Linked DNA regions of Homo sapiens. The gene in region 2 interacts genetically with the main gene of each other region. Each region holds a gene or a part of one and is shown on either strand. Other genes may lie near its edges. The genes, in order: EMG1, BDP1, RBM17, BNIP1, RPLP2, EIF3H and MFAP1.

Region 1 (3,262 bases), on a different chromosome or scaffold from region 2:
TTGGCACCATTGCTTTGTGAATATAAGGCAATATGAATAGTAGGCTCAGGAAGAAGATGTGGCCAAGGAAATAGATGGATTTATACACCTGTGGAGAGAGAGGCCACTAAGGTAGACAGGCCTGGAGTGTCCTTTGCAACCTTTGAGGTTGCAGTGAGTCCCTCCCAGTCTCACAAGCAGGCCTTCACTTGCCTTAAGCCATTTGTCCCACGTGAAGAGGCAGAAGGCAGTCATGGAGTAACCCATGAAGAGCCAGTGGATGGTCTGTTGCACCAAATAGTAGAAGGGCTGGAGGACAGTAATGGCGGCCAGCTTGCTCAGGGTGGGGCTCTCTTGAATGAGCCTGGCAGCCTGGGGAGGGAGGAGGAGCTCATCAGCATCTTGTCCCTTATATTCCCCTTCACCCCCACCCTGGAGGCCTACCTGTCTTTCCACAATAACAATGAGGAATTCCATCTGGAAGCAGACCAGGTATCCTGAGTGCAGGCCGTGCCAGAGGGCCAGGAATAGCAACGAGAGACCCTGAGAGAGTTCTTTATTTCCAAGGAACTTGAGTCGTTTGAAGATGTAGCTGGAGAAAAGGGTGGGTGGGGCGACCCTCAAACTGACTGGTCCTTGCATCCCGCCACCTGCCTCTGGGTCCTCACCCTGAGGATTGGATTGGAGTGCTGGTGGGTTCCCACGTGTAGCCCCCAGAGGGTACAGGAGGCAGTGCTGACTGATTACTTTTAGAGATGGAAAGCAGACCCAAGGCGGAGCTGGAGACCGTGTGCGCACGAGCCACTTGGTTCAGCAGCAGTGACTGAGGCTGATGCTGAGATCAGTGGTGAACCAGACACTCTACTCAAGCTGCCCACACTCTAGTGGTGGGGACAAACAAGTAAAGCTGTTGATAAACAGGGCAGTGGAGGACATAAGTCCATTGGCAGAGCTGGAGTAACACCCAGGTCTTAACGCACTTTTATATCTTGCCTTTTTTTCAAATATGACAGTAATGGTTTTTTTGGGAGGGGGGTATAGGTGGGGGTCAAAGTCAGTGTGAGCGACAGGGGGTTCTGCCCAGATGGGAAAGACGCATAGGGGTGACATGGTACACCCCTGCCCTCCAATCTGGGAAGACAGTGGAAGGAAGGAACCAGGGTCCAGGCTCCCCACCAGCAGCTCACCGGGCCACCCAGGCGTTGGTGTTGATGTTGAATGAGGCAATGGTGCCAGTGAAGCGGGGGTTTGTTTCAAAGAGCCACACCTTCATGTTGGCACAGGCATCCCACTTTGCCTTGCCCTTTTCTTCAAAGCCATTGAAGCCCAGGCCCGTCAAAATGCATACTCCTTCCTGAGAGGGAATAGCTCAGTTAGGGCTCTTGCCACTCCCCATACTGGCCCCCATGGCTTGTCTAAATAGGACCTTGTTTCAACTTTTCTACTTACTGTGACCAGCCAACAGGTGACATATTTGTACAGCACAAACTTGCCCCAGATCAGCATGTACATGCAGCGGAACCAGAAGGGGTGGTTCTTGAGGGAAGAAAGCACAGTGCATTAGGGATATCACATGACTAGGCAGTTTCTCTCAGCACTCTTCCTTTTCACACTTGTGGCTGGCTACTTCATACCTGCCTGAGTCCTGCTGCCAGATGCCCTCAATAGTCTGGCCTGATTGCCTTCACAATAGGCAGAGAGGAATAAGCAGAGGGCCTGGAGAATATTCATTCGCCTTTCCCTTGGAGAGCCTCAAGGGCAGCACTGTATTTAACTTCTCTACTGTTTGCCTTCGTTGGCAAAGTGTTTGGAATGAGCATTTGGAATGTTAAGTACAGAGGGGCCCATATTGGATTTTAATTTAAGGAGAGAAACCTGCCCAGAATTACTGAACTGTTTTCAAGCCTTTCAGCTGGGCAGGAGCAAAAGCCAGCACTTCCCCCCTTCCCTTGGTTTCTGAATTCCCTAGAAGTGCCCAAATGTATCAGTCAAGAGAAGAAAATAGGATGGAGAATCAGAAGCTGCTGTGCTCTGAGGGGTCACGTGGATGTGATAAGGCAAGCTAGGAGCGGCTCCTAGAGAAGGCAACGGGTGCTAAATGTGCACCTGGCACAGCCCTGTGCCCGCGAAGGTTGTTCAGTGCTGGCTGATGAACATGTCCCAGCACGGCTGGCATTGACAACTCACAGATCTAGAGCAAAACCAACATGCACTTGTAGATGATATTTCCTACTTCTCTGCTATCTGTAGGGATCCTTGCCTGTCCATTTTCTAGCTCTGGTGCAGTCATGCTGCTGCTGCTTTAGTAGACACTCACGTCATAGTCTTCAGTGAGGAGATAGTCTTCTGTGATGTGGGGGCTGAGCAGTGTGTAGCCCACTAGGTAGAAAAGGCCCAGACTCAGGCGCTTGAGAGCAGGAATGATGCTGGAAAGGAACGAGTGAAGTTCCTGGTCACAGAGAGCAGAGACTATTCCCTTCACCCTCTGACCTTCAGTTATGGAGAGGAGTGTTTAGGGGTGTGGTTGTCTACCTGGAATGGGATGAGAAGCTCTGCTGCCCAAAGTGTTTCCTGTTTCAGGGAAAGATTTCTATGGCTGGCTATGAGGAATGGGGACTGCAAACCTCTTAAGAGTTGTAGGAAAGTCAGGGCAGCAGACAGTGGACCAGTCTTGTGTTTACCCCTCAGGGATGCTACTGATCTCAAGGTCTTGCCAGGTCTCACAATCTCCATTGGGACTGAAAACCCAGTGGAGGTAAGATAATAAAAATAACCACTTTGAATCTGCTCCTTCATTTCTTGGTTGAATTGATGCTGAAACACAGGATGGACAAGTTCTCAGTGAAGGAATTCTTCTGGCAATTAAACTTTTTTTTTTTTTTTTTTTTTACCATTTTAATTTTTATTTTCTAGAGTCAGGGCCTTGCTCTGCCACTCCGGCTAGAGTACAGAGGCATAGTCATTGCTCGCTGTGGCCTTGAACTCCTGGGCTCAAGCGATCCCCTTGCCTTGGCCACCTGAGTAGCTGGGACTATAGGCATGTACCACCTTGCCTGGATAATTTTTTTTTGTAGAGATGGGGTCTCACTATGTTGCCCAGGCTGGTCTTGAACTCCTGGCCTCCAGTGATCCTCCTGCCTTGGCCTCCCAGAGCGTTGGCATTACAGGCATGAGCCACTGTGCCCTCCTGCATTTCCTACTGATAAATATTTTTGAGACAGGATTTTGCTATGTTGCCCAGAATGGAGTGCAGTGGTGTGATCAAAGCTCACTGCAGCCTTGA
Region 2 (3,500 bases):
TGAATATCTAGTGAAGGCACAGCACTGAAGTCATTGCTACCGCTCTGCATTAAATGTGTGTCAGTTTGTCTTGAGGTACTGGTCTCCTCTAGCTCGTTTTCCCTTGGAGAAATGTCTGTTTTTCCAGTTTGTTTCAATTCTGCCACCTTTTCCTCAGTAACACAGATCTCTTCAGATCCTCTCTCTCTAAAATTTTCTTTTCCAGTTTCTTTCAAATCTGCCTCCATTTCTTCAACAACAGCCATCTTTCCTGATACTTTCTCCATGATGGGAATGTCTCTTTTTCCAGTTTCTTTCAAATCAATCTCCTTTTCCCTTATAGCACTGAACTCTGCTAGCACCTTTTCCCTTTGGGAAATTTCTTCTCTAATTTCTTTCAAATCTGTCTCCATTTTACCTACAGGCTTGACCTCCTCTGGGCCATTTTCCTGTGGCGATATTTCTCTTTCAGTTTCTTCCAAATCTGTCTCTATTACCTCAGCAGCATCAATCACCTCTCGTGTCTTCTCCCTTGAGGAACCCTCTCTTCCAGTTGTTTTCAAGTCTGTCTCCATTTCATCTACAGGCTTGACCTCCTCTGGGCCATTTTCCTCTGGGGATATTTCTCTTCTTCCAGTTTCTTCCAGATCTTTGTCTATTTCCTCAGTGGCATCAATCACCTCTGGTGTCTTCTCCCTTGGGGAAATCTCCCTTCCGGTTGCTTTCAAATCTGTTTGCATTTCACCTAGAGGCTTAACCTCCTCTAGGCCATTTTCCTGTGGGGATATTTCTCTTTCAGTTTCTTCCAAATCTATCTCTATTTCCTCAATGGCATCAATCACCTCTGGTGTCTTCCCCCTTGGGAAACTGTCTCTTCCAGTTGCTTTCAAATCCGTCTCCATTTCACCTAGAGGCTTGACCTCCTCTAGTCCATTTTCCTGTGGGGATACTTCTCTTTCAGTTTCTTCCAAATCTATTTCCTCAGTAGCATCAATCACCTCTGGTGTCTTCTCCCTTGGAGAACTCTCTCTTCCAGTTGCGTTCAAATCTGTCTCCATTTCATCTACAGGCTTGACCTCCTCTGGGCCATTTTCCCTTGGGGATATTTTTCTTCTTCCAGTTTCTTCCAAATTTTTGTCTATTTCCTCAGTGGCATCAGTCACCTCTGGTGTCTTCTCCCTTGGGGAACTCTCATTTCCAGTTGCTTTCAAATCTGTCTCCACTTCACCTAGAGGCTTAACCTCCTCTGGGCCATTTTTCTGTGGGGATATTTCTCTTCTTCCAGCTTCTTCCAAATCTTTGTCTATTTCCTCAGTGGCATCAATCACCTCTGGCGTCTTCTCCCTTAGACAAATCTCTCTTCCCATTGCTTTCAGACCTGTCTCCATTTCTATGGTGTCATCAATCACATCTAGAATCTTCTCCCTGGGAGAAATGGCTCTTCTTCCAGTTTCTTTTAAATCTGACTGCATTTCTTTAGTATTAATCTCTGCTGGTACCATCTCCTTTGGTGAGGTGTCTAGTCTTACAGTTTCTCTCAATGCTGCCGCCATTTCCCCAGAGACAAGAATCTTCTCTAGTACCTCTTCCTTTGAGGAAATTTCTCTCCTTCCAGTTCCTCTTCCTATATTTGGCTTTGGTTTCTGAAATCGAGTCCTTAGAATTGGGACTTGGTTAAGTTTATTTGCCTTATTATTCTCTTGAACGCTATAAAAAAAAAAGGGGGCACACAATCAAGTTTTAAACCAGACTGCCTGCTGAAGAGATGATGTTTGAGAAATCACTACAGAAACACCAGAAACTCTCAAATTCAAAAAAATTAAGGAAGGCCTAGGAATCGCTGGGTAAAATTTAAAAATTAAAAGAAAAAAAATCCCACCTTTTGAAATCACAGCAATAAGTTTAAATATATATATATATCTAGTAAGGTCAATCAGTATAGAAGCTATTTGATCCTAACAGTGTCTTTCCAATTGTCATTCACACTACCATTTATAAATACTGACTGGGAAAGACTCTCCAGTTCTCTGCATTGGAGCTAGATTGATGTATGTCTGCTATTTCTACCTCTTCATCCCTTCTATCTTTTATACAGACAAATGGTTTGCCATAATAGACCTGACCACCTCAAATACCTGGATACAAGTATGACTTGACCAAGATTAAATCTTAGGACTACAAATGAGGTCTGCCCTCCTCACCTTTTAAAACCAATTTTATATGAGATTTCCTATACAGATAGTTCTCTAAAGGCTTGTTATTTCATAACATAAGTAAAGAATCAAAGGACAGACCAAATACACAATAATACTTTGCTGAATGCTACTGGGCACACAACCACTATCCAAAGCAAGCACCTTGCTCTCCAGAAAAGCAGCAGCACTTTTTGTTTTGCTTTCTGTTTATTATAATAGATGGTAAAATCAATAAACATATAAATGAATGAAAGGGCTTTTAAATGACTGGTTAGGAAAAGTTATTAATATTGGGCAAAAGCTAGATCAAATGAAACACTAGATTGTATTCGGCCATGTCGGACTGAACAGGTATATAACTATACATTCAACAGCTTAAAAAAAGACGTATTGAGCTGGGCATGATGCTTCATGCCTGTACTCCTAGCACTTCAGGAGGCTGAAGCAGATGGCTTGAGCCCATGAGTTTTTGGTAGAAATCCCATCTCTACAAAAAAAAAAAAAATTAGTCAAGTGAGGTGGCGTGCACCTGTAGTCCCAGCTATTCAGGAGGCTGAGGTGGGAGGATCACCTGAGCCCAGGAAGGATGAGGCTGCAGTAAGCCATGATCATGCCACTGCACTCCAGATTGGGCAAGAGAGCAAGATCCCATCTCAAAACAAACAAACAAAAAACAAAACAAATAAGCAAAAGATTTACTTAAAAGTATGCTAGGCTGGGCATGGTGGCTCAGCCTGTAATCCCAGCATTTTGGAAGGCTGAGACAGGTGGATCACTTAAGGTCAAGAGTTTGAGACCAGCCTGGCCAACATGATGAAACCCTGTCTCTACTCAAAATACAAAAATTAGCAGGGCGTGGTGGCACGCGCCTGTAATCTCAGCTACATGGGAGGCTAAAGCAGGAAAATAGCTGGAACCCAGGGGGCGGAGGTTGCAGTGAGCCAAGATCATGCCACTGCACTCCACCTGGGCAACAGAGTAAGACTCTGTCTCAAACAGAAACAAAAACAAAACAACAAAAGTATGCTATTGCTTGTTTCAACTTCTTTAGGTCCTATACTATCCTTCCTCACTGAAATAACTGTTTTCAATAATGCAATTTTTGATACTGTAAGACAGGTCCTTAGGAATAAGATTGCTTTTCAAATTGTACTTGTTTACATAACTGAAGTGTTTATATCCATCATTAACTTTAGCAATTGACAACGTTAAATGTAAAATTAACAGCAATCAATAAAGGAAATTTAATTTGATTAGTCCTGAATGGACCGCATTCCATTTTTTGATTTATGATACTTTTCATCTCCATCCAGAAACATCTAGCTT
Region 3 (3,500 bases), on a different chromosome or scaffold from region 2:
TAAAAAAAACACAAAATACTGGCATCCAAAAAATCTAAATTTGGTAATGATGAATTTTAAAAACACAAAAAAACCTCTCTACAATACTGAACAATCAAATGTAAGCACTTCCATGTAAGTATCTATTGATGTGGTAAAGGGAAAAGAAAAATGAGTAGAACTTTTAAGAAAAAAAACCTGTGTATTGGCCGGACACGGTGGCTCACGCCTGTAATCCCAGCACTTTGGGAGACCAAGGCAGGCGGATCACGAGGTCAGGAAATCGAGACCATCCTGGCTTACAAGGTGAAACACCGCAGGCGCAGTGGTGGGCGCCTGTAGTCCCAGTTACTCAGGAGGCTGAGACAGGAGAATGGCGTGAACCTGGGAGGCGGAGCTTGCAGTGAGCTGAGATCATGCCACTGCGCTCCAGCCTGGGCTACAAAGTGAGACTACGTCTCAAAAAAAAAAAAAAAAAAAAAAAAAAAAAACAAAAAACCTGTGTATTACGGAAATTTTCAAACATGAAATTAGAGATTAATATTAATTCTTAAGTCTCTACTATCCACATCCAGTTTCAACAATTATCAACTCATGGGTAGTTCTGTTCTTCCCTCCCTCCCCTGCCCGGGACTGAATTGTTTAGAAGTAAATCCCAAAAATGACATCATCTTATCGGTAAATATTTCAGTACACATCTCTAAAGTACTTTTTCTCAACTTTAATTACTGCCTCCCCAGCAAGGAGCCTTTGACTAAATTTTCTCCCGCACATGAAATTTTCACACCACAGATACACTGTGCACAACACGAGCAAGGTTTTTTCACCCCCAAAAAGACCAATATTCGCTCTGTTTGGGGGGATATAGCCTCCATTACGAATGCATACTCTAGAACATAAAGATCTCTAAAGTAGTAAACAAACCATAATACCATTCTCATGCCTACATTTTAATGGCAAATATCCAGTCGACAACTAGGTTTTTAATGTTTTACATGTTATTTCAAGGACATTGCCAATACCCAACATGTACACAACAGAAACAAAAGCAATCAGCATCCAGACTACCTATGCCTGACGCCTTCACAATCAACCTGAGCCCTCAATAAGTTGCACGCAGCAGCTTAGGTATTCTGTGGAGCTTCTTCCCAAAGTGCTGCTTCCAAACTACCTCCACCAAACCAGTAGGAATGCTACTTAAAAATTCCCACTCCTGGGGCTCCAGCCTGAACTACAGTTTACCAGAATATCAGGAGTAAGGCTACAAAATTAGCACCTTAAACAAGTTCTCACTCAATCTTAGACCTCCACTACTTAAGTTTGAAAAGCAGTGTCACTGCTGGTTCAGAGTACTGTTTTTTTGTTTGTTTGTTTGTTTGTTTTTGAATCGGAGTCTTGCTCTGTCGCTCAGGCTGGAGCGCAGTGGCGCGATCTCGGCTCACTGCAAGCTCTGCCTCCCGGGTTCACGCCATTCTCCTGCCTCAGCCTCCCGAGTAGCTGGCAGTACAGGTGCCCACCACTGCGCCCGCGGTGTTTCACCTTGTTAGCCAGGATGGTCTGGATCTCCTGACCTCGTGATCTGCCTGCCTTGGCCTCCCAAAATGCTGGGATTACAGGCGTGAGCCACTGCGCCCAGCCCCCGCAGAGTACTGTTTTTCTTCATTCCTACCCCACGAAATGTTCCTATTCCCAGGAGCCAGGAGTAGCAAAGTGGCCTTAAACTCCTCATTCCTCTCCCCCTACAAATGCTTAACACCATTTACCCAATACAAAGGCAGAAGAGCAAGCTGAAACCAAATTCCTTGTCATCCTAATGAGGAACCCACTCTGGAGGCCTCTGCTCTCATGCTCTGGGCTTGTCTTTACCTTTGCCTGAGTGAGAGCTGCCTTCTTCACCTGAAGCTGAGACTGCAGAAGTTTGAAGTTTTTGGACCAGCCTTCTGTTTTTGAGTCACTGGTCTCCACTCCTAGGTCATCGTACAGGGACATCTTTTCTTCAGTTTAATGCTGAAAGGCAAAAGGGGTGGGGATTAAAGAATGCACAATTCAATAAAGGCTTTTCATGTTAAAATAAGTATCATGAAATTTTAGAGGTAAAAGGTCCAGGACCTTTCAGCAACAGAGGCCCAGGCTCCTGGTACCATTAATGTAGGGCTATTCCTGATACATGAAGCTAGACCATGGATTATTTTTAAAATAAGCCTCTAAAATTCATTTTTCCATCTATAAGATCATGCAGTCAAGTGATCCATGAGTGAAATCCTTCAATGCTAGGGCACATAATGAGGTAAGAATTGGAACATTATTAATTACATATATCCAATTTTTAAAAAATTCTATTTATGTCAGTGCCAAAAAGTAGAAGCTTTACAAAAACACCAATTAGCAGGTTGATGTAGCACAATTAGCTACCCTTTTATAAAGAAAAAATTTAAACGTACTCCTAGGGAAAAAAATGACAGAAATGATCTCTTAGATGTGATTTTGTCAATTACAATTATCAAGGGGGGAGTAGACTGGTTACATCTTAAATACTCTGATTTCCTCATATCACACCAAGTGGAAATCTGTCATCTTTAATGATAGTGATTACAAAGAGACAATCAACAATCTGCATGTGAACGAGCAACACACAGCTTCCGTGCAGAACAGAGGAACACGTGGAAACAAAAACCGAGTCAGCAGGCGCAAAGCATGACATGCAATGCAGCATCGGCAGCAGGTCCCATGAAAGCCCAGCACTGCACAGACATGGATGCTGGGGTTTAGGGAATCAATCTGCCCAAGGCCACAGCGGAAGCCCCTTCCAACCCAGCCAGGCCAACTCCAGAGCCCTCGCCAGTGAACCCCAACTGCCACTTTTTAAAAAAAAAATCAACATTCTGAAACCCACCAACATAGCTTACTTCTTCAAATAAGAAATCAATCTCACAGACAGAAAGAGAACTTAATTTAAACAGAAACCCACAAATTGCAAGTAAATGCTTAGCACAGTAGTTCCCAGTTTATGGACAAATAAGTCTGTCAGTTCCCAGGGGGCCCATAAAGCATTTTCCCATGGAAACCGTGTTATTGAAAAGCCTAATTTGCTTGTGTTCTGTGGCTCAGGAGAGGAGGAAAATATTTAACACATACCCTCCTTAGGTCTGATTCGGCAAGCATTTCTCTTGAAGGTACTCTTACTTCTCAGCTCCCCCATTACAGGGATTCTAAGACCCTGCCGCCCCAACACCTTCGCTGATGTTGGTACCACACTGTGTGGAGTGGGGGACGGAGTGCACACCAACTTCTGTTCCCTCAGAAGAACTGCCCTGGTCTTAAGTACAGTAACTCCCTGCCTGAAGTCAGCACCCCAGAAAACTGTCACCACTTTTTAGTTTCTTCCATTCCTTCATACGTGAACCCTCAAATTAACTAAAACCTCTCCATTTTGATTTTTAAATGAAAGGTCCCCGCAAGGCCGTAGAGAAGCAGGGAAAGCAGACTGTCCAGGGGTATTGATGGCCGACTGCTCAAATGAA
Region 4 (3,500 bases), about 100 Mb from region 2:
CACCTGAGCCTGGGAAGTGGAGGTTGCAGTGAGCCGTGATAGTACCACTATACTCCAGCCTGGGTGACAGAGTAAGACCTTCTCTCAAGAAAAAAAAAAAAAAACACACACACACACACAAAAAGCCAATCTTTCAAAATATTTCTTCAAGGTTTGTTGTTCTTTCCATACTACAGACCAATCATGAATGACACAAACATGATGGATTAGCAGAGCCCTGACTGACACGGCGGATCTACAGTCTTCACCTGCGCTAACTTGTGGGTGATAACGGAAAGTTGGTGAACAGCTTCCTGGAGTTAGAAATGTGACAGTTGACCGGGCGTGGTGGCTCACATCTGTAATCCCAACACTTTGAGAGGCCGAGGCGGGTGGGTCACTTGAGGTCAGGAGTTCGAGACCAGCCTGGCCAACATGTTAAAACCCTGTCTCTACTAAAAATACAAAAATTAGCTGGACATGATGGCGAGTGCCTGTAATCCCAGCTACTCGGGAGTCTGAGGCAGGAAAATCACTTGAATCTAGGAGGCAGAGGTTGCAGTGAGCCAAGATCACGCCACTGCACTCCAGCCTGGGCAATGAGAGTAAGACTCCGTCTCAAAAAAAAAAAGAAATGTTGACAGTTGTTGATAGACTATAAAAAAGCTAACTGCGTCTCTCTAAGAATCAAACTCATACTTCAGAACTCTTATGTAGCCAGCTCAAACCAATTGTGCTAATCTCTGGAAATACTCAAAAATCAAAACACAGAGTACATGAACTGACAGGGTGGTTTTCTAATAGCACCTTTATGCTGAAGGTCTTAATGAGCACCTGCTCCGCCATTTCACACCTGCCACTTTAAAGAATCCATTACATTTTGAAACAGTTTGCAAGGGGGTTCTGCAGGACCCTGGGATCCAGAGATGAATGAGGGGCAGTACTTCTCCTCAACCACCTCACATTCATTTGGGAAAAAGACAAGCAAACAGATACTCACTGTATGGTGTGACAAGCATGATGACCCAAGCAAGCACAACTACTGCTTCAACTGCCAAAGTTGGTTTTTTTTGTTTTTTTTGTTTTTTTTTTGAGACAGGGTCGGCTGGGCACGGTGCCTCACGCCTGTAATCCCAGCACTTTGGGAGGCTGAGACCGGCGGATCATGAGGGTCAGGTGATCGAGACCGTCCTGGCTAACACGGAGAAACCCCATCTCTACTAAAAATATAAAAAATGAGCCAGGCGTGGTGGCGGGTGCCTGTAGTCCCAGCTACTCGGAGAGGCTGAGGCAGGAGAATGGCGTGAACCCGGGAGGTGGAGCTTGCAGTGAGCCGAGATTGCGCCACTGCACTCCAGCCTGGGTGACAGAGTGAGACTCTGTCTCAAAAAAAAAAAAAAACAAAAGAAAAGAGGCAGGGTCTCGTTCTGTCTCCTAGGCCAGGTGCAGTCACATGATCACGGCTCACTGCAGCCTTGACCTCCCGAGCCCACTGCCCTCCTGCCTTGGCCTCCCAAGTAGTTGAGACTACAGGCACACATCAGCATGCCCCCAGCTAATTTTTTTTTTTTTTAATAGATGAGGTTTTGCTTTGTTGCCCAGGATGGTCTTAAACTCCTGGGCTCAAGCAGTCCTCCTGCCTCGGCCCCCGAAGTGCTGGGATTATAGGTGTGAGCTACTGCACATAGCCCCAAAGTATAAATTGACAGCTTTCTCTGCTCTGGCCTGTAATGCTACATTGTGGATGGCCATTCCCAGCTTTAAACCCATGCTAAGCTGAGTGTGTCTGGCATAACTTACCATACTTTATACAAGGGCTCCTCTGTACTCAGTGTTTATAATCTGAGTAGGCTTGGTGGCTCAGGAAAGCAAAAGCCATCATAACATAAAGTATTCGTGAAATAGCCAAGCCCTGGATCACTGCCCACCACTCATACAGCCCTCCCTGCTTACACTGGCCTCCCTGTGCCTGTGTTTTTGCCAGTCGGTGTCTTCCTGACAGCTGACTGTTACATACACAGCTGCTTGCAGGGAAGATGATGCTGGCAAATTGCTCAAATCAGAAGCAAAGCCACAAATACAGATCTGGCAGAGGCAGACCAGTGAACAAGAGACAAAGAGAAAACCCATGGGAATGACAACTTAGCAGGGGTTTCAAAAGAGAATGATTTAGCCAGGCACGGTGGAGTGTGCTGTAGTCCCAACTACTTGGGAAGCTGAGGTGAGAGGATCGCTTGAGCCCAGGAGTTCCTGAGGCTGCAGTAAGCTATGACTGTACTCCAGACTGGGCAACAGAGAAGGACCTCATTTCCAAAATTTTTTAATTTTTTAAAAATAAAAATATTTTTTTTTTGTTTTTAAGGTGGAGTCTCACTCTGTCACCCAGGCTGGAGTGCAGCAATCTCGGCTCACTGCAACCTCTGCCTCCCGGGCTCAAGCGATTCTCCTGCCTCAGCCTCCCGAGTAGCTGGGATTACAGGTGTGTGCCACCACACCCGGCTAATTTTTGTATTTTTAGTAGAGAGGGGTTTCACCATGTTGGTCAAGCTGGTCTCGAACTCCTGACCTCATGATCTGCCCACCTCGGCCTCCCAAAGCGCTGGGATTCCAGGCGTGAGCCGCCGCACTGGGCCAAAAATGTATTTTTAAAAAAGAGAGAGAATGATCTGAATACCTCAAATATGTTTGGAAAAACCCTCTTTATGATTGGTACAAAAGTCAAATGTGAAGGGAAAGATACTGTTTCATGTTGTCTGACAATTTCATTGGAAAAGTTAAACCTCTCCCAATTCAATAACAAGAAATGGCATATAACTGTAACTATATAATCAAGGATTAGCACACACCTGCAATTACAACCTCGATTTTGGTTTTAATTTTTGACCTCAATTTTGTTTAATTTACGGTTTTTCTTGCATTTTATTTTATTTTATTTTTAGACAGCATCCCACTCAAAACCTTCTAAATTTTGGTCCACCTTCAGCAGGTTTTCTTTCTGTAGATTTTTTCTGGTACCAATTATCCTTAGATAAAAAATGACCCTGTATTACAAAAGCAATCATATTTTTTGATTAAAAATATACAATACAGTATAATGTTAAATATGCTTTTGTAAACTATGTTCAGCTCCACCTGCTCAGATAGGCCCTATTTATCCCTTCCCCACTCGCCCCCACTTGACTATTGCTGACTGAGAGAGAACATTCCACCAGTGTGTAACTGATGCAATTGGCTGGGCGTGGTTGCTCACACCTGTAATCCCAGCACTTTGGGAAGCCAAGGTGGGTGAATCACATGAGGCCAGTGTTAGAGACCAGCCTGGCCAACACAGCGAAACTCTGTCTCTAGTAAAAATACAAAAATTAGCCAGGCGTGATGGTGGGCGCCTGTAATCCCAGCTACTCAGGAGGCTGAGGCAGAAGAATTGCTTGAACTCGGGAGGCAGAGGTCACAGTGAGCCAAGATCAGGCCACTGCACTCCAGCCTGGGCAATAGAGCGAGACACCGTCTCTCAAAAAAAA
Region 5 (4,114 bases), on a different chromosome or scaffold from region 2:
TCCTCTGCTGTGGAACAGAGGAGAGGCATGGTGAGCACTGCCCAAGTGCCAGGCCAGTCCCCCCATGAAGACCCCACTGCAGCAACACCGTCTGAGCCCCAGCCCCTTGCCCACTCACCAGGCCACCACTTACCTGCAGCAGGGGCAGAACCAGCAGCAGGGGCTGCAGAGCCTGGGGCAGCAGAGACGGCTACAGCCCCACCAGCAGGTACACTGGCAAGCTTGCCAATACCTACAGAAAGCAGAGAGGTGAGACCAGAGCAGCTGCCCAGCCTGGGAGGCTGTTCCACAGGGAAGTTAGATGGCACCAGAGATGGCACATGGCACCCAACATATCTGGACCCACCATATGCCAGTGTCTCCCGTTCTTCCTGAACACTCCCTCCCTGAGCCACTCCTCAACGGGGACTTCTCTTCCCCACCTTTCCTATCCAGGGACTTGCCTTCTAGGAATTAGGCCCACACTGCCTGCCTGCCCAATTTCCCCACCTCCACCCTCAGAGGTCCACTGGACAGACATGTTCATAACTAGGTAGGGAATGAGTGTGCTGCCCCAGTATCCACATCTCTGGCCACAACGCTGTGTTCATGGCTTGGCCCGTTTGCTGAGCTGGCCCTGTCGTGGTCACATGCATGGAAGACAAGAACAGCTGCCCCAACAGCTCAACTTCCAAACAAGTTCCACCAGCTCAGCTGAAGCCAACAAAAAACCATCTGCCCAACAAAGAGGCAAGGAGCCTATGGACATCCCTGGCACCCTCAGTCCCTGCCCCCAACCCCCTCACAGAAAGCATGTGGTAAGGACTGCTGACGTGAACTCAGTTCTCCAGACACCAAGCTTCAGACAAATCCTGGGGAATGGCCTCAGGGCTAGGAGCAGTCAGGCTTAAGAGGCAGGGCCACCTAAACGTCTGCTGAGAACACAGGGTGCCCCCTGCTGCCCTGCTCCTGAGAGTGTCTAGAAGTGCCCATGACGTGAGCCCACTGGAGCCCTGCTCACTCCTCGGGTGAGGCTTCTAGGGTGCTCTGGTCCACAAGCGAAACCTGGCAGGCCACAGATGGACCGGCAGGGATTAGGATGGACCATGAAAACAAACGAAAGCCCGTCCACATCAACTCACCCTGGGCAATGACGTCTTCAATGTTTTTTCCATTCAGCTCACTGATAACCTGAAGCAGACAATCACAGGGCTGTTACCAGGAATGTACGATTGTATCCCCGGCCCTCTCCCTCCCAGAGTCACAGCAGGACTGGGTTCCCCACATGGGAATAGGCCCTGAAGTTTCCAGAACTGCACTGCCCAAAGGGAGCCACCAGCCTCACTTGGGAAGTGATATAAAAATAAATGGACACTAGCTTTCTTAGACTTAGGACTGACAAAAGGACACAGGGCATCTCACTACTTATGTTGACTACTCATAGGTATCTTCAACACTGGCAAAATAAACTGGCAATGAAATTGACTTTGACTTCAGGCTGGAGTGCAGTGGTAGGATCTCACTGCAGCCTTGACCTCCCGGGCTCAAGTGACTATCCCACCTCAGTCTGGGACTACAGGCATGAGCAACCAAGCCTGGCTAATTTTTTATTGTATTTTAGAGACGAGGCCTGGTTCTGTTAGACTGCAGTGGCACAATCACTACTCAGTGCAGCCTTGACCTCTAAGGCTCAAATGATTCTCCCGCATCAGCCTCATGAGTAGCTGAGACTACAGATGTGCACCACTGCCTCCAACCATTTTTTTTTTTTTTTTTTTTTGTGGAGACCGGGTCTTGCAATGTTTTCCAGACCAGTCTCGAACTTCAAGGCTCCAATAATCCACTCGCCATGGCCTCCCAAAGCCGGGTGAGCCATGCGCCAGGACTGCTTTTTTTTTTTTTTAACGCAATCTTACGCAGCTCACTGGTATTAAACTTCCAAAGCTTGTTAATCACGATTTTGCCTCGTACCCACCCTGCTTTTTTTTTTTTTTTTCCTTTTGAGACAGGGTCTCCTTCTGCCACCCAGACTGGAGTACAGTGGCACGATCCGTGCAACCTCCATCTCCCGGGTTCGAGCGATTTTCCTGCCTCAGCCTCCCAAGTAGGGGGACTACAGGCACCCACCACCACGCCCGGCTAATTTTTGTATTTTTAGTAGGGATGGGGTTTCGACATGTTTACCAGGCTGGTCTCGAACCCCTGACCTCAGGTGATCCGCCTGCCTCGTCCTCCCAAAGTACTGGGACTACAGGCGTGAGCCACCGCGCCCGACCTCCGCCCGGCTTACTTCTCTATCCAAGAAATCGCCAACTAGACTGAAACGAGCCTCTCCCCGAACCCTCCAGCATGTGGCCGGATCAGGCAGAAGAATCGCCTGTATGGGACACTGGGGCCCCACGGCGGCTGCGGGGCAAGGGCGGCCGCTACCTTGTTGAGCCGGTCGTCGTCCGCCTCGATACCCACGCTGTCCAAGATCTTCTTGATGTCCTTGGCGCTGGGGGAGGAGTTGCCCCCTAGGGCAGCCAGCAGGTAGGAGGCGACGTAGCGCATCCTGAGGCGGGCGGAGAGGACGCGACGGCGGAGTTACCCCGGCGGCCTCCTGCCGGCCCATCCCGGGGCCGCCGGGCGAGGCCGCGCGTGGCTCGGCCCGTAGGCCTCCGTCCCAAAAATACCCCGCCGCCCACCCCGCATCCCCACGGACTCCGCGTCCCCAGCCGGCACCCCGGGCCCGGTCACCACACTCACGCGGCGGCGTCTGCGGCGGAGGCGGCGGAGAAGTCTCACGCGTGCGACCTCGGTGGCGACAGGGAGGAAAAGGAAGGCGCCGACGCAAGAGGCGGGGTTAAACCGCTACCCAGAAGGCTCTGGGACCCGTGCGCGGCGCCGCATGAGGCGCCTCAGAGTGACGTCACGAGGCGCTCAGCCAATGACGACGGGGAGGGAGTCGTTGACTCCTTCCCCCTCCCCCTTCCCAGCCCCCGTCAGGCACTTTTCGCGGCAAAGGCGAAGGGCAGCAGTTCCGGAAGTGACTGCTCTTATAGCGTGGGGCGAAGGGCCACCGAAACTCGTGGGGGCGTTGGACGAAGCGAGTCCAAAGGGACGGCATCTGCCTTCGGTACCTAGCACCCCCAGCATGCCACGCGGCGCCTACAGCTCCCAACATGGAGCGCGGCCGCCACGCCCGGGACTCAACCTTTGCCAGCGAACTGCAAGTCCCATGGTGCACCGCTGCCGGAAGTGGCCTGCGCCGCGGGCCTACCCGGAACGGCGCGTGGGCCCGGGCAGAAGCTGCTGGCGGTAGGCTCGCCTTGACTCCTTGGTGGTTCCCTGGCCGCGGCGACCGGTGGTCCCACGTCCAGCCGGGCTCAGTGAGGTGAGCCAGCCGCCTCGGACTTAGCGACTGCGGCCCTATCTGGGAGGCCGCCCCCGCACTGCGGTGTCAGGGCATCCTGTCAGAGGACGAGCGCGGGCCTTGGAGGGCAGGACAATGACGTGAGGCAGCGTCGCCCGCTCACCCCTGCGAGGAGTGAGGTCTGAGTGGTCAGCCCCTGCGCTGGCCGCTTTGGCCCGGAACTGACCTCGGTGTCCATGTGGACATCAGCACCTCAGGGACCCCGCTACATTCTCGGGTCCTGGGAGGGAACAGGGTTGGCCCTGCCTCCTAAGGACTTGAGTTCTTGTGCGAGGACGCAGGAGGTGAATAGGGAGGCGATCCGAAGGACAGGGACAGAGGGAGACTTGGTCCTCTGGGCAGCCTGAGAAAGCTTGAGCTGAGAGATGAGAAGGAGCCATCCCTGCCAATATCCCGGGCGAGCACCAGGAACAGGGTCAGATGCAGGTATCTACCGTGTTAGCAGGCAGCGCCAGCTCCCGTTGGGCTCTAACAGCAGTGCAAACCCTGGGGTGTGTATACGTCAAGCACTGGAACTCGACTTCACAGTCGCCTTCTGTGGCCTCGTTATCATTACCCCCATTTTATAGATGAGGCAGTTGGGTACAGAAAGGTTTTTTTGCTCAGGGTCACACATCTGGGGTAAAGGCGGGAAACCATCTTGGGAACAATGGGACTTTTCTTATTTTGTAATTTTTGAGACTGGGCCCCATTCTGTCGCCCAGCCTGGAGTGCAGTGGC
Region 6 (3,500 bases), on a different chromosome or scaffold from region 2:
AGAGCAAGCTTCTTCTCAAACAGTAAAATGCTATAAATCACCTGATTGTGTAGGTCAGGAGAGGGGCCTGAGATTCTGTGATACGTATGTCTGCATTTCTAACAAACTCAAGTGTAGCCAACATTGCTCATCTTACTGGACATGGATCATACTTTGAATAGCAAGGTCTAATGAACATAAGAAAGGTAAAATTCAAATGTTCTAGGGAACAAAGTGGGTTCAACATGAAAAGTTTAACGGGAAGAATTAGCTTGATCTTGTCTAGGAACAATGAGACCACCTGACAGAATGAAGACCCATTCTTTCTTTATTTTTGTTTTTTTTCTTTTAACTCATCTGTATTTGTTACAACTTTAAGCAGAATGTGACTCAGGCACTACATTTCCATCCACAAGACTAGCTCTGAGTTATTTTTGAACAGCTTTACGACATGCTTAGGTAGGCTTATAACTTTGCTCCTCCAAATGATACTTTTCTTTGGAAAACAAGCCCTGTGGAGGGCTTACTTTTCTTTGGAAAACAAGCCCTGTGGAGGGACTGCTACATTACAGATACAGAGGAAGTGATGAAACAGGTCTAAAGGTAGGAAAGGAAGGGTTCAAAAATACAAGAAAAATTGGTCTTGGCCACTATCAATGTGCCAGGAAGGAACAAATGTGTTAAAACATCAGGCTAAACATAGGATGAGATTAATCTCTGGGTTCATCTACATCTATATATGACTGAGAATGGTCATGAGAGTCGGGACTGGGTTCTACCTTGCTCACCTATATAATATCTTATATAGGTTACTGCAATATACCCCAGCATGTAGCAGGGCTAGACCTGGCATGTGGTCGGCAATCAATAAATATTTGTTAAATGAATGAAGAACAGAATACATCTGGAGTATACAGATTCAAGTTAAACTATATGGAGAATTTTTAAAAAAACAGAGTAAGTCGATTAAGTCACATTTTTTATTCAATATGTGATGATGAAAGAGAACAATTTCAAAGAGAAAGAACTTCATGAACAAAAGCAAGGTCATGCTTACTGCTTTGAATAAGGATGTGACTCTAGGTCTGTCTTTAGCATGACTTTTTTTTTTTTTTTTTTTTTTCTGAGACGGAGTCTCGCTCTGTCGCCCAATCTGGAGTGCAGTGGTGCAATCTCGGCTCACTGCAAGCTCCGCCTCCCCGGTTCATGCCATTCCCCTGCCTCAGCCTCCTGAGTAGCTGGGACTACAGGCACCCGCCACCACGCCCGACTAATTTTTTGTATTTTTAGTAGAGACAGGGTTTCACCATGTTAGCCAGGACGGTCTTGATCTCCTGACCTCGTGTGATCTGCCTGCCTTGGCCTCCCAAAGTGCTGGGATTACAGGCGTGAGCCACCACACCTGGCCTTTAGCATGACTTATTAAAGAAAAAACTAAGTAGTCTGAGGGGCTGGAATGTACAGTTCCTACAAAGCTTGGAAAGAAAGGAAATAAACCTGAACATAAATGCAAGAAACAAGGACAACATTTTGGTCCTTCAATTCAATGGAAAGTCACTGAAAACATCTAAGGAAAGAAGTTAAAATCTGAATGTTCACGTTAAATAAACGTTTTAATAAAAGTATGAGGCCGGGCACGGTGGCTCACGCCTGTAATCCCAGCACTTTGGGAGGCCGAGGCGGGCGGATCACGAGGTCAGGAGATCGAGACCATCCCGGCTAAAACGGTGAAACCCCGTCTCTACTAAAAATACAAAAAATTAGCCGGGCGTAGTGGCAGGCGCCTGTAGTCCCAGCTACTTGGGAGGCTGAGGCAGGAGAATGGCGTGAACCCGGGAGGCGGAGCTTGCAGTGAGCCGAGATTGCGCCACTGCACTCCAGCCTGGGCGACAGAGCGAGACTCCGTCTCAAAAAAAAAATAAAATAAAATAAAATAAAATAAAATAAAAGTATGAATGGTAGACTGAAGAAGGCAGGGGAAAACAATATTAAAATAACCTGCATAAGATATTAGAACATAAATTAGTATAAATAATAAAATGGAATACATACTCATTCATTTATCCTACTTTGTGAATTAACAGGTTCAGCACTGGAGATAAAACAGGTGAAAAAGCATAGTCCCTGCCCTCAGTAGCATACATTCTGATGAGGAAAACAAAGAAGAAAACAAACAAGATAGTTACAGGCTGTGGAAAATTCTAGAAATATAGGGTGCTGTGATGGAAAGTAAGGAGAAGAACAAGTCTATAATTCTATTTTGTACATGTTAAATATGAGATGCCTATGAGATATCCAAATAGTGACGTCAAACAGGCAATGGGTATTCAAAAGAGGCATTCAAGAGCCATTACTGGCAGAAATATAAATCTAGGACTTATTAGAATATAAATATTTAAAGCCGTGAGCACAGATAAGAATACCTTAAAGAATACTACTATAATTACTGCAAATAAAGCAGCAGCAAAGCTTAAATGGTGACTTATTCTGTCCCAGACATTGTTCTAGTTATTGACATATATTCAATCCATTTAAAGTCTCAAAACAATTCAGATGAGGAAAATGAGGCACAAAGACTTGCCCAATGTCATGCAGCAAATTTCAGAGCTGGGATTCAAATCCAAGCAGTCTGGCTCCAGAGCATGTACTTTTATCAACTTCGTTACACTACCTATGTCAAGCAGAGACTAAAAGAAAAGCCAAAACCTAAACCATGAGGCACTCCAATATGCACAGATGGAGAAGAAACATAAAAGGAAAGGAGTAAGTGGCCTAAAAGGAAGGATAGTGATTGACTGGGGTCACACACCAATAAGAACCCTCAGGATTCAGGTATGAAAGCAAAAGAAAGAAACCATAAACCATGAAAATTGATAGGGATAGTGGCAATCATTTTGTGGATGAGAAAATGTACCTTTGGAGTAAAACAATCATAGAAGTGTTGTTAGTTACTGGTGGATGCAGACTGGAATGCATGTCTCCTGATTACCAGGAGCACTGAAGTGCTCTTTCTACAATTCCAATCTACATTAGCAAAGTTAGCATTCGAAATGATTTGAGAAACATTAATAAGGATGAGAGTGGTAAAGACACAGTAATCTGAGTGTTTACGATGACACAGGTACTATACTAAACACTTTAAATACCTCGGAATTTCATTCTCACAACCCTTATGAGTTACTACTTTATCATCATCCCCATTTTACAAAGGATACACCTGAGGCCTAGAAAATTTAATAACTTCCCCAAGGTCATGCTTACTGCTGGAATAAGGATCTGAATCCAAGTCTGTCGTCAAGATTCTCTTGGCTAGTATGTAATATTGCTTTCCTAAGAGTAACACTGTTCATCAAGACAGAAATGAAGAAAGAAAGAAAGAAAGAAAGAAAGAAAGAAAGAAAGAAAGAAAGAAAGAAAGAAAGAAAGAAAGAAGAGAAAGAAAGAAAGAAAGAGGGAGGGAGGGAGGGAGGGAGGGAGGGAGGGAGGGAGGGAGGGAAGGAAGGAAGGAAGGAAGGAAGGAA
Region 7 (3,500 bases), on a different chromosome or scaffold from region 2:
TTGTATTTTTAGTAGAGATGGGGTTTCACCGTATTAGCCATGATGGTCTCGATCTCCTGACCTCATGATCCGCCCACCTCAGCCTCCCAAAGTGCTGGGATTACAGGCGTGAGCCACAGCACCCAGCCTACAAATACAAACAATTCTAGTGAACAAAGACAGTGAAAACTAACCAACTTATTTTATGAGTATAACCTTGATAACCAAATTGGACAGTTCAAAGGAAAACTTTAGGTGGATTTCACTTACAAACACAAATACAAAAATACTAAATAACGTAAGAGCAAATTTATCCCAGCAATATAAAAACTACCAAAAAAAAAAAAAGAAACAAAAAAAAAAAACCCCTAGACCAACACAACTTATTAGAATTTAGCCCAAGACTAGAAGGATAGTTTGACCTTAGAAAATTAATGAGGGGGCCAGGTGCAGTGGCTCATGCCTATAATCGCAGCATTTTGGAAGGTTGAGGCAGGAGGATTGCTTAAACCCAGGAGTTCGAGACCAGCCTGGGTTTAGACCTCATCTCTACTAAAAACAAAAAAAATTACCCGGACATAGTGGTATATGCCTGTGGTCCCAAGCTACATGGGAGGCTGAGGTGGGAGAATCACTGGAGCCCAGGAGGTTGAGGCTGCGGCAAGCCATGACCACACCAAGGCACTCACTTTAGCCTGAGTGATAGAGTGAGACCCTGTGTCAAACACAAAAATATATATAGCTGGGCACAGTGGCTCATGCTTGTAATCCCAGCACTTTGGAAAGCCAAGGTGGGCAGATCAGTTGAGGCTAGGAGTTCGAGACCAGCCTGCCCAACATGGCAAAACTCCGTCTCTACTAAAAATACAAAAATTAGCCAGACATGGTGGCACAGACTTTTTAATCCAAGCTACTCAGGTGGCTGAGGCAGGAGAATAACTTGAACCTGGAAGGTGGAGGTTGCAGTGAGCTGAGATCGTGCTACTGCACTCCAGCCTGGGCAACACAGTAAGACTCTGTCTTTAAAAACAAAACAAAACAAAACAAAATTCCAAAAAAAAATGTACATAGATAGATAGATGAACAATGGGAGGGAAGCAATATACTATTTTTACTTTTTAAAATTTTATTTTTGTTTGTTATTTTTTAAAAGGTAGAGAAAGGGTCTTGCTATGTTGCCCAAGCTGGCCTTGGACTCCTGGCCTCAAGTGATCCTCCAGCCTCAGTCTCCCAAAGTGCTAGGATTACAGGTGTGAGCCATCTCTCCTAGCCTACTATTTTTTAAAGTCACATTTTTAAAAAATAATAGATACAGCAGACTTTATACTTAATGATAAAACAATAGAAACATTCTATTTATTTATTTATTTATTTTTTTTGAGATGGAGTCTCGCTCTGTTGCCCAGGCTGCAGTGCAGTGGCATGATCTCCGCTCACTGCAACCTCCGCCCCCTGGGTTCAAGCAATTCTCCCTGCCTCAGGCTCCTGAGTAGCTGGGATTACAGGTGCCCACCACCATGCCTGGCTAATTTGTGTATTTTTTAGTAAAGACAGGGTTTCAACATGTAGGCCAGGCTGGTCTTGAACTCCTGACCTCAGGTGATCTGCCAGCCTCAGTATCATAAAGTGCTGGGATTTCAGGTGTGAGCCACTGTGACTGGCCAGAAGCATTCTCTTTAAAAATCAGTGGGCATCCAGCTGGGTGTGGTGGCTCACGCCTGTAATCCCAGCACTCTGGGAGGCCAAGGCGGACGGATCACAACGTCAGGAAATTGAGAACATCCTGGCTAACACAGTGAAACCCCATCTCCACTAAAAAGACAAAAAAATTAGCCAGGCATGGTGGCGAGTGCCTGTAGTCCCAGCTACTTGGGAGGCTGAGGCAGGAGAATGGCGTGAACCCGGGACACAGAGCTTGCAGTGAGCGAGATAGCACCACTGCACTCCAGCTTGGGCAAGAGAGCGAGACTCCGTCTCAAAAAAACAAAAAACCAAAAAATTAGCCGGGTGTGGTGGCACGCACCTGTAGTCCCAGCTACTCAAGAGGCTGAGGCAGGAGAATGGTGTGAACCCAGGGGCGGAGCTTGCAGTGAGCCGAGATCGCGCCACTGCACTCCAGCCTAGGCGACAGGGTAAGACTCCATCTCAAAAAAAACAAACAACAACAACAAAAAAAACCAGTGAGCATCCTAATGTTGTACCTATCACACCTTCTAGTCAACACTGTATTATGGTTCTAATTTGGGCAATAAGGAAAAGTTATAAGGATTTAAAAGGAAGAAACTGCCATAATTTGCAGATTATATGGTTGTCTTTGTAGAAAACACAAGATAACAAATAGATAAAAGAGTTCAGAAAAAATGCTAGATAAAAAACTTATTTATAAAAATAAGCATACCTGTACATTAGCTACATATAATTAGAAAGTACAATTTTATTTTTATTTATTTTCTTGAGACAGGGTCTCACTCTGTTGCCTAGGGTGGAGTGCGGTGGCGCAATCATGGCTCACCGCAGCGTCAGCCTCCTAGGCTCAAACCATTCTCCTGCCTCAGCCTCCCAAGTAGCTGGGACTACAGGCGTGCAACACCATGCCGGTCTAATTTTTAAAATTTTTTTGTACAGACGAGGTCTCACTATGCTGCCCATGCTGGTCTTGAACTCCTGGACTCAAGTGATCCTCTTGCCTAGGGCCTCCCAAAGTGCTGGGATTACAGGCGTGAGCCACCATGCCTGGCTTATTTTCTACTGTTTGAGAAAGGGTCTCATTCTGTTACCCAGGCTGGTGTGCAGTGGCATGATCACAGCTCACTGCAGTCTCAACCTCCTGGGCTAAAGTGAGCCTCCCTCTTCAGCCTCTCAGTAGCTGGGACTACAGACAGGTACCACCCAGGTAATTTTGTTTTTTTGTAGAGCACTGTATTTTTTGGGGTCTCGCTATGTTGCCCAGGCTGAAGAAAATATAGTTTTAAAATACCATTAACGGTCACAAGTAATCTATAAGATACTGTGGAATAAATCCAACAAACAATGTACAAGGCTTTTAGGAGGAAAAATATGTAATTTTATTGAAAGATAAAAAAGATGTAAATAGAGAAATATTTCATGTTCAAGGATGAGAAGATGGCAACTGCACCTGAATTAACCTATAAATGTATAATCTATCATTTTAATGCAATTCCATTAAAAGTTGTCTCCAGGCTTATTCCAAAATCATATGGAAGAACAGGAGGCCCCAAAATGCCAAGACAATGCTGAAGAAGAATAAAGCTGATGGGGGCGGGGAAGGAGGGGTGGGGCATAGTTTACCAGATATGTCAGTGACCCAGGAAGTACACAGAGATCAATGTAACAGAGAAAAGAAAAACAAACTTATATGAGAACTCGAGTATATTATAGGGATGGCATTAAAAATCAGTAGAAAATGGATGGGGTGAGAAGGGACAATTGGCCAACCATATAGTAAAATTAGACCTCTAACTTCCACCACAGACACAAAAATTCCAGATGGATTAAAGACG

The links.
Region 1: changes in BDP1 (region 2) and EMG1 together harm fitness less than expected from each alone (positive genetic interaction), as found in Homo sapiens cells (one large-scale study listed by BioGRID).
Region 3: changes in BDP1 (region 2) and RBM17 together harm fitness less than expected from each alone (positive genetic interaction), as found in Homo sapiens cells (one large-scale study listed by BioGRID).
Region 4: changes in BDP1 (region 2) and BNIP1 together harm fitness less than expected from each alone (positive genetic interaction), as found in Homo sapiens cells (one large-scale study listed by BioGRID).
Region 5: changes in BDP1 (region 2) and RPLP2 together harm fitness less than expected from each alone (positive genetic interaction), as found in Homo sapiens cells (one large-scale study listed by BioGRID).
Region 6: changes in BDP1 (region 2) and EIF3H together harm fitness less than expected from each alone (positive genetic interaction), as found in Homo sapiens cells (one large-scale study listed by BioGRID).
Region 7: changes in BDP1 (region 2) and MFAP1 together harm fitness less than expected from each alone (positive genetic interaction), as found in Homo sapiens cells (one large-scale study listed by BioGRID).

The regions. Positions count from the first base shown.
Region 1 is NC_000012.12:6,977,175-6,980,436, forward strand, and holds the end of EMG1 (ribosomal RNA small subunit methyltransferase NEP1), read left to right. Parts: coding exon of another isoform or gene 1-88; 3' UTR 89-192; coding exon of another isoform or gene 193-351; 3' UTR 352-423; coding exon of another isoform or gene 424-571; 3' UTR 572-1,166; coding exon of another isoform or gene 1,167-1,333; 3' UTR 1,334-1,428; coding exon of another isoform or gene 1,429-1,515; 3' UTR 1,516-2,296; coding exon of another isoform or gene 2,297-2,405; 3' UTR 2,406-2,762; downstream 2,763-3,262. Other genes in the region: LPCAT3 (lysophospholipid acyltransferase 5), read right to left, coding at 1-88, 193-351, 424-571, 1,167-1,333, 1,429-1,515, 2,297-2,405. UniProt on the Homo sapiens protein: S-adenosyl-L-methionine-dependent pseudouridine N(1)-methyltransferase that methylates pseudouridine at position 1248 (Psi1248) in 18S rRNA.
Region 2 is NC_000005.10:71,507,651-71,511,150, reverse strand, and holds part of BDP1 (transcription factor TFIIIB component B'' homolog), read right to left. Parts: intron 1,687-3,500; coding exon 1-1,686. UniProt on the Homo sapiens protein: General activator of RNA polymerase III transcription. Requires for transcription from all three types of polymerase III promoters. Requires for transcription of genes with internal promoter elements and with promoter elements upstream of the initiation site.
Region 3 is NC_000010.11:6,095,534-6,099,033, reverse strand, and holds part of RBM17 (splicing factor 45), read right to left. Parts: intron 1,987-3,500; 5' UTR 1,969-1,986; coding exon 1,846-1,968; intron 1-1,845. UniProt on the Homo sapiens protein: Splice factor that binds to the single-stranded 3'AG at the exon/intron border and promotes its utilization in the second catalytic step. Involved in the regulation of alternative splicing and the utilization of cryptic splice sites.
Region 4 is NC_000005.10:173,154,531-173,158,030, reverse strand, and holds part of BNIP1 (vesicle transport protein SEC20), read right to left. Parts: intron 1-3,500. UniProt on the Homo sapiens protein: As part of a SNARE complex may be involved in endoplasmic reticulum membranes fusion and be required for the maintenance of endoplasmic reticulum organization. Also plays a role in apoptosis.
Region 5 is NC_000011.10:808,653-812,766, reverse strand, and holds the start of RPLP2 (large ribosomal subunit protein P2), read right to left. Parts: upstream 2,801-4,114; 5' UTR 2,728-2,800; intron 2,534-2,727; 5' UTR 2,533-2,533; coding exon 2,410-2,532; intron 1,171-2,409; coding exon 1,122-1,170; intron 1,087-1,121; exon of another isoform or gene 953-1,086; intron 233-952; coding exon 134-232; intron 8-133; coding exon 1-7. Other genes in the region: PIDD1 (p53-induced death domain-containing protein 1), read left to right, coding at 3,815-3,820. UniProt on the Homo sapiens protein: Plays an important role in the elongation step of protein synthesis.
Region 6 is NC_000008.11:116,749,324-116,752,823, forward strand, and holds part of EIF3H (eukaryotic translation initiation factor 3 subunit H), read right to left. Parts: intron 1-3,500.
Region 7 is NC_000015.10:43,818,191-43,821,690, forward strand, and holds part of MFAP1 (microfibrillar-associated protein 1), read right to left. Parts: intron 1-3,500. UniProt on the Homo sapiens protein: Involved in pre-mRNA splicing as a component of the spliceosome.